2 linked regions of the Homo sapiens genome follow. The protein of the gene in region 1 purifies or fractionates together with the protein of each later gene. This does not show direct contact. Each region holds a gene or a part of one and is shown on either strand. Other genes may lie near its edges. The genes, in order: SEZ6L2 and SLC35A5.

Region 1 (3,819 bases):
GTCAGGAGTTTGAGACCAGCCTGACCACCATGGTGAAACTCCGTCTCTACTAAAAACACAAAAATTAGCTGGGCGTGGTGGTACATGCCTGTAATCCCAGCTACTCAGAAGGCTGAGGCAGGAGAACCACTTGAACCCGGAAGGCGGAGGTTGCAGTGAGCCGAGATTGCGCCATTGCACTCCAGCCTGGGTGACAAGAGCGAAACTCCATCTCAAAAAAAAAAAAAAAAGGAAAAAAATGAGACAGGGCCTTGCTCTGTCACCTAGGCTGGAGCGTGCAATGGTGGGATCACAACTCACAGCAGCCTTGACCTCCTGAGCTCAAGCGATCCTCCTGCCTCAGCCTCCCAAGCAGCTGGGACCACAAGTGTGCACCACCACACCTGGCTAATTTTTTGTTTTGTTTTGTTTTGTAGAGACAAAGGTCTTGCTATGTTGCCCAGGCTGGTCTCCAACTCCCAGGCTCAAGTGATCCTCCCATCTTAACCTCCCAAAGTGCTGGGATTACAGGCGTTAGCCATTGTGCCTGGCCACAGTGAAGAATCTTAAACTCATAGAATAGCAGTGGCCTACAACTCTGGAGTCAGGACTCACAACTTGCTATTTTCGGTAAAAGATCTGTGCTGTTTGCACTTTAACACTCCCAGAATCTATCCCGCAATTCATTTTTGCAGATCCACTGTTCTATTTCACTGTTACTTAACCTGCAAGGTATCATGTCCAAATCCTACCCATCCATCACAGCCGAGTGCCAATTCCATTTCTCCCATGATTCATATCAAACACTAGACCCTCCTATCTCTAAGCATTTCATCTTTTTGGTCTCTCTCTTGCTACTGTTTATACAACTCCTCTGTTTCAGCCACAATGAAATTCTGTTTCCCAGACATACCAGGCATTTCCCTACTTGCTGTTTCTCAAAGTTCCTCTCTTTCCTTTTCTTTTCTTTTCTTCTTTTTTTTTGACAGGGTCTTGCTCTGTTGCCCAGGCTGGAGCACAGTGGTGCAATCATAGCTCACTGCAACCTCTGGGGTTCAAGTGGGGTTCAAGTGATCCTCCCACCTCAACCTTCCATGTAGCTGGGACTAGAGGTGTGTGCCACCACACCTGGATAATTATTACTTTTTTTTAATTTGTAGACACAGGATCTCACTATGTTGCTCAGACTGGTTCTCAAACTCCTGGCCTCAAACAATCATCCCACCTTGGCCTCCCAAAGTACTGGGATTAGAGACACGAGTCACCACAACTGGCCTCAATCTTCCTCTTTTAAAATATCCTCTGTTGGCTGGGCAGGGTGGCTCACGCCTGTAATCCTAGCACTTTGAGAGGCCGAGGTGGGAGGATCACTTCAGCTCAGTAGTTGGAGACCAGCCTGGGCAACATAGTGAGATGCTGTCTCTACAAAAAATGTAAAAATTACCCAGGCATGGTGCCGAACGCTTGTGGTCCCAGCTACTAGGGAGGCTGAGGCAGGAGGATCACTTGAGCCCAGGAGGTTGAGGTTGCAGTGAACCATGATCGGGCCACCGCACTACGGCCTGGGCGACAAAGCAAGACCTATTTCAATAATAATAATAATAATAATAAAATACCCTCTATCCTTTAAGGCCAAGGTGAAATGCCTCTTCCTCCATGATCACTTCCTTGTTTCTACCCCTTCACATTCATTCCTCTTCTTCTGGTAACGGCATCCCAATTTTAATTTTGGGACGCAGGCCTTCCCCACTCCCAGTCCACTAGGTTAAGTTGGAGCCCACCAGGGAAGGCCACGTGAGGCAGATTAGCCAATCCCAATACTCCCTTCTCCTAGCTCAGTGATTGGCTCAGGCTAAGGCCAACCAGGATCTTAGTCAGGTCAATGAACGCCTCTCCTGGCATTTTTGCTGAGCTCTCAGGAAATATATGAGTGTTCTCTCTGATGAGGTTACTCGGTTGGTGGTATGGGCTGGAGGAGGTGGCTTACACCTGTAATCCTGGCACTTTGGGAGTCCCACATGGGCGAATCACTTGAGCCCAGGAGTTCAAGACCAGCCTGGGCAACATGGTGAAACCCCGTCTCTACTAAAAACCCAAAAATTAGCTGGGCGTGGTGATGCATGCCTGTAATCCCAGCTACTCGGGAGGCTAAGGAATGAGAATCGCTTGAACCTGGAGGAGGGGGGCTGCAGTGAGCTGAGATCGCGCCACTGCACTCCAGCCTGGGCGACAGAGAGGAACTCTGTCTCAAAATAAATAAATAAATAAAAATAAATAAAAACTAAAAACTGTCAGGCGCAGTGGCTCACGCCTGTAATCCCAACACTTTGGGAGGCGGAGGCGGGCAGATCACCTGAGTTCGGGAGTTCCAGACCAGCCTGACCAACGTGGAGAAACCCCATTTTTACTAAAAATACAAAATTAGCTGGGCATGGTGGCGCATGCCTGTAATCCCAGCTACTCGGGAGGCTGAGGCAGGAAAATCGCTTGAACCCGGGAGGCAGAGGTTGCGGTGAGCCGAGATCATGACATTGCACCCCAGCCTGGGCAACAAGAGCAAAACTCCGTCTCAAAATAAATAAAGGCCGGGCGCGGTGGCTCACTCCTGTAATCCCAGCACTTTGGGCGGCCGAGGCAGGCGGATCACAAGGTCAGGAGATCGAGTCCATCTTGGCTAACACGGTGAAACCCCGTCTCTACTAAAAATACAAAAAAATTAGTCGGGCGCGGTGGCGGGTGCCTGTAGCCCCAGCTACTCGGGAGGCTGAGGCAGGAGAATGGCGTGAACCCGGAAGGCGGAGCTTGCAGTGAGCCAAGATGGCGCCACTGCATTCCAGCCTGGGTGACAGAGCGAGACTCGTCTCAAAAAATAAATAAATAAATAAATAAAATAAAAATTAAGTTGGTGGTATGTAAGTCGGCAGCTATGTCCATCACACAGGGAAAGTGCCTAAGGATGAAGCCAGCACAGAGGAAAGAACCGAGATACTGAGATAACTGGTCTCTGGGCTATGTACCTGGATCCAGACATTCATGAAGCTTAAACAGAGAAGGCTGCCTGGGGGAAGGAGAAGGGGTCCCTAGAAGAGATCCTTGCAGTTTTGGGGCAGGGAAGCGAGTCACGTTTCAAGGAACCCAGCACGGAGATGAACAGGCATAGAGTTTGTGCTTCCGACTATGCTTGGTGTCAGGAAGAGGGGAAGGTGTGGCGGTTGGGGTCCTGTGGGGGAGTGGGTCACTTACCTTCAAATCGAAGGCTTAACAGCAGGGGATTGGCAGGTGTCTCTGACAGCAGCTCCACGTAGAGGGACTGGGCGTCACTGATGAGACCCCGCTCGGGGACATCGTCCATGTCCGAATCATAGATCACGGGGGATAGGGGGCTGCCCCCTGAGCGCACCATCAGCCTGGGATGGACAGAAACGTGACCAGGAGCTCAATCTCCCTCACAAGCTGCCTCACCCCTTGCCTGCTTTCCTAACTTATTTTTATAGCTGTTATCATCACACATAACTATATGCCACGCACTCTTCTAAGCCCTTACACATTCTATCTCATTTAATTTTCACAAGAACTCTTGAGTCAGACACTATTATTATCCTTTATTTTATAGATGAGGATATTAGGGCATAGAAAGATCAAGTAACCTGTCCAAGGTCACAGAGCAAGTAGTGGCAGGGCTGAGATACCAAGTTGCTAGGTAAAGGATGATAATGATGATGAAGATAGCAGATGCTTGACCAGGCATGGTGGCTCAGCTCACACCTGTCATCCCAGCACTTTGGGAAGCCAAGACGGGTGGATCACCTGAAGTCAAGGAGTTCAAGACCAGGCTGGCCA
Region 2 (3,819 bases), on another chromosome or scaffold:
TAATGTGTATCAGCTGCACCTTCAGAAATTTAAGTGGTTAGTTCACAGTTTCTCACCTGATGGCATAAGGCTGCGCTAACGCCATCAGTAAGTTCTAGATCAGGCTATTTGAAAATTACATACATATGAGAAAGCATATAATAGTGTGCACAGGTATGCTGCTATCTAGGCTAGTCTGTGCATTTAGCAGTTTCAGAGCATGAAGCTTTATATGCACACAACTTCCTATATGTGCATCCTGGAAACTTAGAATTATACTTAGGAGGTGTGATGATGCAGAAGGAAGACATACAAAACCATGGATCCGATCCCTTCTTTAGTGTTTAAGTACATGACCTTAGGGAAATCTGTTAGGTTAACTGTTTCCTCCCTTAGAGCGGAAATGCCTAAGTGTATGGTAGGTGCTCAATAAATGCTCCAATGATATAAAAATTCTCACTTCTGGTTCCCACCTATTGCTTTACACTTCTGCATTTTTTATGTTCCTCTTTTTTTCTCGGTGTTCCCCTTCTTTGCCTAACTAACTGATCTTCAAACATCAAGATTTTGTTCCCCCAAGAGGCCTCCTGACAACGCCAATGAAAGTGAGATATTCCTCTTTGTCAACATTGTACATTCTTGTTGCCTTTGCATAGAGACTCTTCCCTCTGCCTGGATATATCACCACCTCCTTTTTCACATGATAAACTTCAATTAATTTTTCATCTTCTAGCTCAAGTGTCATTTCCTCTTTGAAGCAATACCTGACTATTTACAGATTGTAGTGTTCCTCAGTTTACTCCACTTGTCCCATTAATCACTTTTCACACATACTGAAATCATTTAGTTTCATTGTTTTCTCACTGTTAAAGCATAAATTCCTTGAACATGGAGATAAGTCATCTTTATCGCCCCAGGTTGCCTGGCACGTAGTAGCTGCTTATTAAACATCTGTTGAATAGAATGAATCAGCAAAATGGAATAATAATAGTACATGTCCTTTATTTCTCACAAGTTTGTTGCTAAGGAAAATAAACAAAGGATTGTTAGGACTTTGTAAACTGAAATACTGCCCAAAATAACATTTTTCTTTGGCTTGTCAGCCAGCAGTTTGCTGTTTAATGCTCTACGATTAGGACATGGATCTAGAGCTAACCTTCTCCTTTAAATCTTTTTTGGGTTATGGACACCTTTAAAGATTTGACAAAGCTTTGCAGGATCTCCTGCATAGGGGGAAATTCATCTGTACACAACATTTCTGAAGCTCATCTACATTCTTTCTGGTTCTGGGAAACCAGGTTGAGAATCTCTGCTGTAACTTTATAGTACAATAAAAGTTACTGTGCCAGAGGTCCAGGATACCTCTAGAGGTAGAAAGGAGGCCATGTTAAACTTGTAGGTTAAAAGGAAACCTACACAGAAGGGAAATGACTTGAGCAGCCTTAGGGGATAGGTGTTATAAAAATGAATTAAAACATTAAATTTGAGAGACAGGCACCAACAGTTTTTCTCTGAACTTGAGTGGTAGGAAATGCTAGCAAAAACTGGGTCCAGTTTATTCAACCAAATACTCAAGTGTCTGAGTTTTCAGTAGAAACTATTGATATGGGGGGAAAACAGTAGTAAAATCTTTTTTTTCATCTTTGAACAGGAGGCGTCTAAACTGGATCCAGTGGGCTTCCCTCCTGACTTTATTTTTGTCTATTGTGGCCTTGACTGCCGGGACTAAAACTTTACAGCACAACTTGGCAGGACGTGGATTTCATCACGATGCCTTTTTCAGCCCTTCCAATTCCTGCCTTCTTTTCAGAAGTGAGTGTCCCAGAAAAGACAATTGTACAGCAAAGGAATGGACTTTTCCTGAAGCTAAATGGAACACCACAGCCAGAGTTTTCAGTCACATCCGTCTTGGCATGGGCCATGTTCTTATTATAGTCCAGTGTTTTATTTCTTCAATGGCTAATATCTATAATGAAAAGATACTGAAGGAAGGGAACCAGCTCACTGAAAGCATCTTCATACAGAACAGCAAACTCTATTTCTTTGGCATTCTGTTTAATGGGCTGACTCTGGGCCTTCAGAGGAGTAACCGTGATCAGATTAAGAACTGTGGATTTTTTTATGGCCACAGTGCATTTTCAGTAGCCCTTATTTTTGTAACTGCATTCCAGGGCCTTTCAGTGGCTTTCATTCTGAAGTTCCTGGATAACATGTTCCATGTCTTGATGGCCCAGGTTACCACTGTCATTATCACAACAGTGTCTGTCCTGGTCTTTGACTTCAGGCCCTCCCTGGAATTTTTCTTGGAAGCCCCATCAGTCCTTCTCTCTATATTTATTTATAATGCCAGCAAGCCTCAAGTTCCGGAATACGCACCTAGGCAAGAAAGGATCCGAGATCTAAGTGGCAATCTTTGGGAGCGTTCCAGTGGGGTAAGTTTGTGAGGGTGTTCCTTTTTGCTTGTTCTTCCCAAATTTAAAGCATAGTTAATTCAAGGAAAAAAATAAAATCAGTACTGATTTGTCAAAGAATGTATTGGATCTCTGACTTTTAAAACCGAATCAACAAACATTCCTTTTACTCCTGATGTTTGCAAGGGCTCATAATCAATGCTGTCAGGTGTAGAGAAAAAGTATAAGTCAATCTCAAGGACCTTATGTGTTACTTCATAGAATACTATAGAATTATACACCTGGAAGATACCTCACAGGTTGTCTTGTCCTGTCTGCATAGTTTTACAAGAAACAGGCAAAATGGTTTACAGATAATAAATGAAAGAACTGGTACACCTATGTCTGACTCCAAGTCCCTTTCTCTTTCTTTTCCACCATAGTTAGGGAAAATAAGCTCATTTGTGAGAGAAGTTGGCCTTTCGTATTAGTAAGTCCTGTTGAATAGAAAGCCTGGCTCCTCAGTCCTCCCTGTGGTTATTCATAAGCCAGTATGCCAGAAGGGCAGGGTTTGTTTATTTCACTAGAAAGGTAGTTTTCAAGAGGATCCTTGCAAGGCGAGTAGGAGGAAAATATTTTCTAGAAAAATGCTTATGCAATTATTCCGAATATCTCCCAGTTGCTTGCAATTGTTTTGGAAGGCTCTGTCAATCATTTTATTGGCAAGTTAATGATCTCTTTGAAGATTCAATTAAGGAGTTAAATATACGTTTAAATAAGTGAAATAGACATCTAGCTTTAGATTTACAATTTTCTTGAGCACACAAAATATGAAATATTTTATACAGTGAACATTTCACTCTTTGGGAAAAATAATCTATTGCTTAATAACATTCATAGCAGAGCTTCCCTGGGTGTAATGCCTCTGTCATGATTCAACAGATTCTAAAGATGAAAAAATTAGGATCTTGAGTTTCGGATACCCTGCTCTTAGCCAGAGTGTATATCCAGAAGTCTTGTATTCTTTTCCAACAGCCGATAATGCCATTTGCTCTAATTTTTAAGCAAAAGAAAATCTATATAGGTAACAAGGCCTATGAAGACCTATTTCTGTAACCTTTAATCATTTTTCTGCAAGACCAGCAGGTGGTGCTCCTCACTTTGCTCATGTTAGCTTTGAAATTTTGAGTACTGAGTACACTTCACTTTTTTATCCTCTCATACTTCTATAGTTAACTTTCCAAGAACATAAGTATTTATTTAATTTGACCAGATTATATCTATAGCTTAATGAGGTAAGACCAGTGATTTGTTAGTAAGGTTTTCCCTTTAAAAATGCTACATTTCCAGTTTTGTTCTAATTACTGCTTTCATGTTTCCTTTTAGGATGGAGAAGAACTAGAAAGACTTACCAAACCCAAGAGTGATGAGTCAGATGAAGATACTTTCT

What was found.
Region 2: the proteins of SEZ6L2 (region 1) and SLC35A5 fractionate together in Homo sapiens (co-fractionation; one large-scale study listed by BioGRID). This does not show direct contact.

Annotation. Positions count from the first base shown.
Region 1 is NC_000016.10:29,882,364-29,886,182, forward strand, and holds part of SEZ6L2 (seizure 6-like protein 2 isoform 5 precursor), read right to left. Parts: intron 3,387-3,819; coding exon 3,223-3,386; intron 1-3,222. UniProt on the Homo sapiens protein: May contribute to specialized endoplasmic reticulum functions in neurons.
Region 2 is NC_000003.12:112,578,916-112,582,734, forward strand, and holds part of SLC35A5 (UDP-sugar transporter protein SLC35A5), read left to right. Parts: intron 1-1,630; coding exon 1,631-2,411; intron 2,412-3,755; coding exon 3,756-3,819. UniProt on the Homo sapiens protein: Probable UDP-sugar:UMP transmembrane antiporter involved in UDP-alpha-D-glucuronate/UDP-GlcA, UDP-GlcNAc/UDP-N-acetyl-alpha-D-glucosamine and UDP-N-acetyl-alpha-D-galactosamine/UDP-GalNAc transport from the cytosol to the lumen of the Golgi.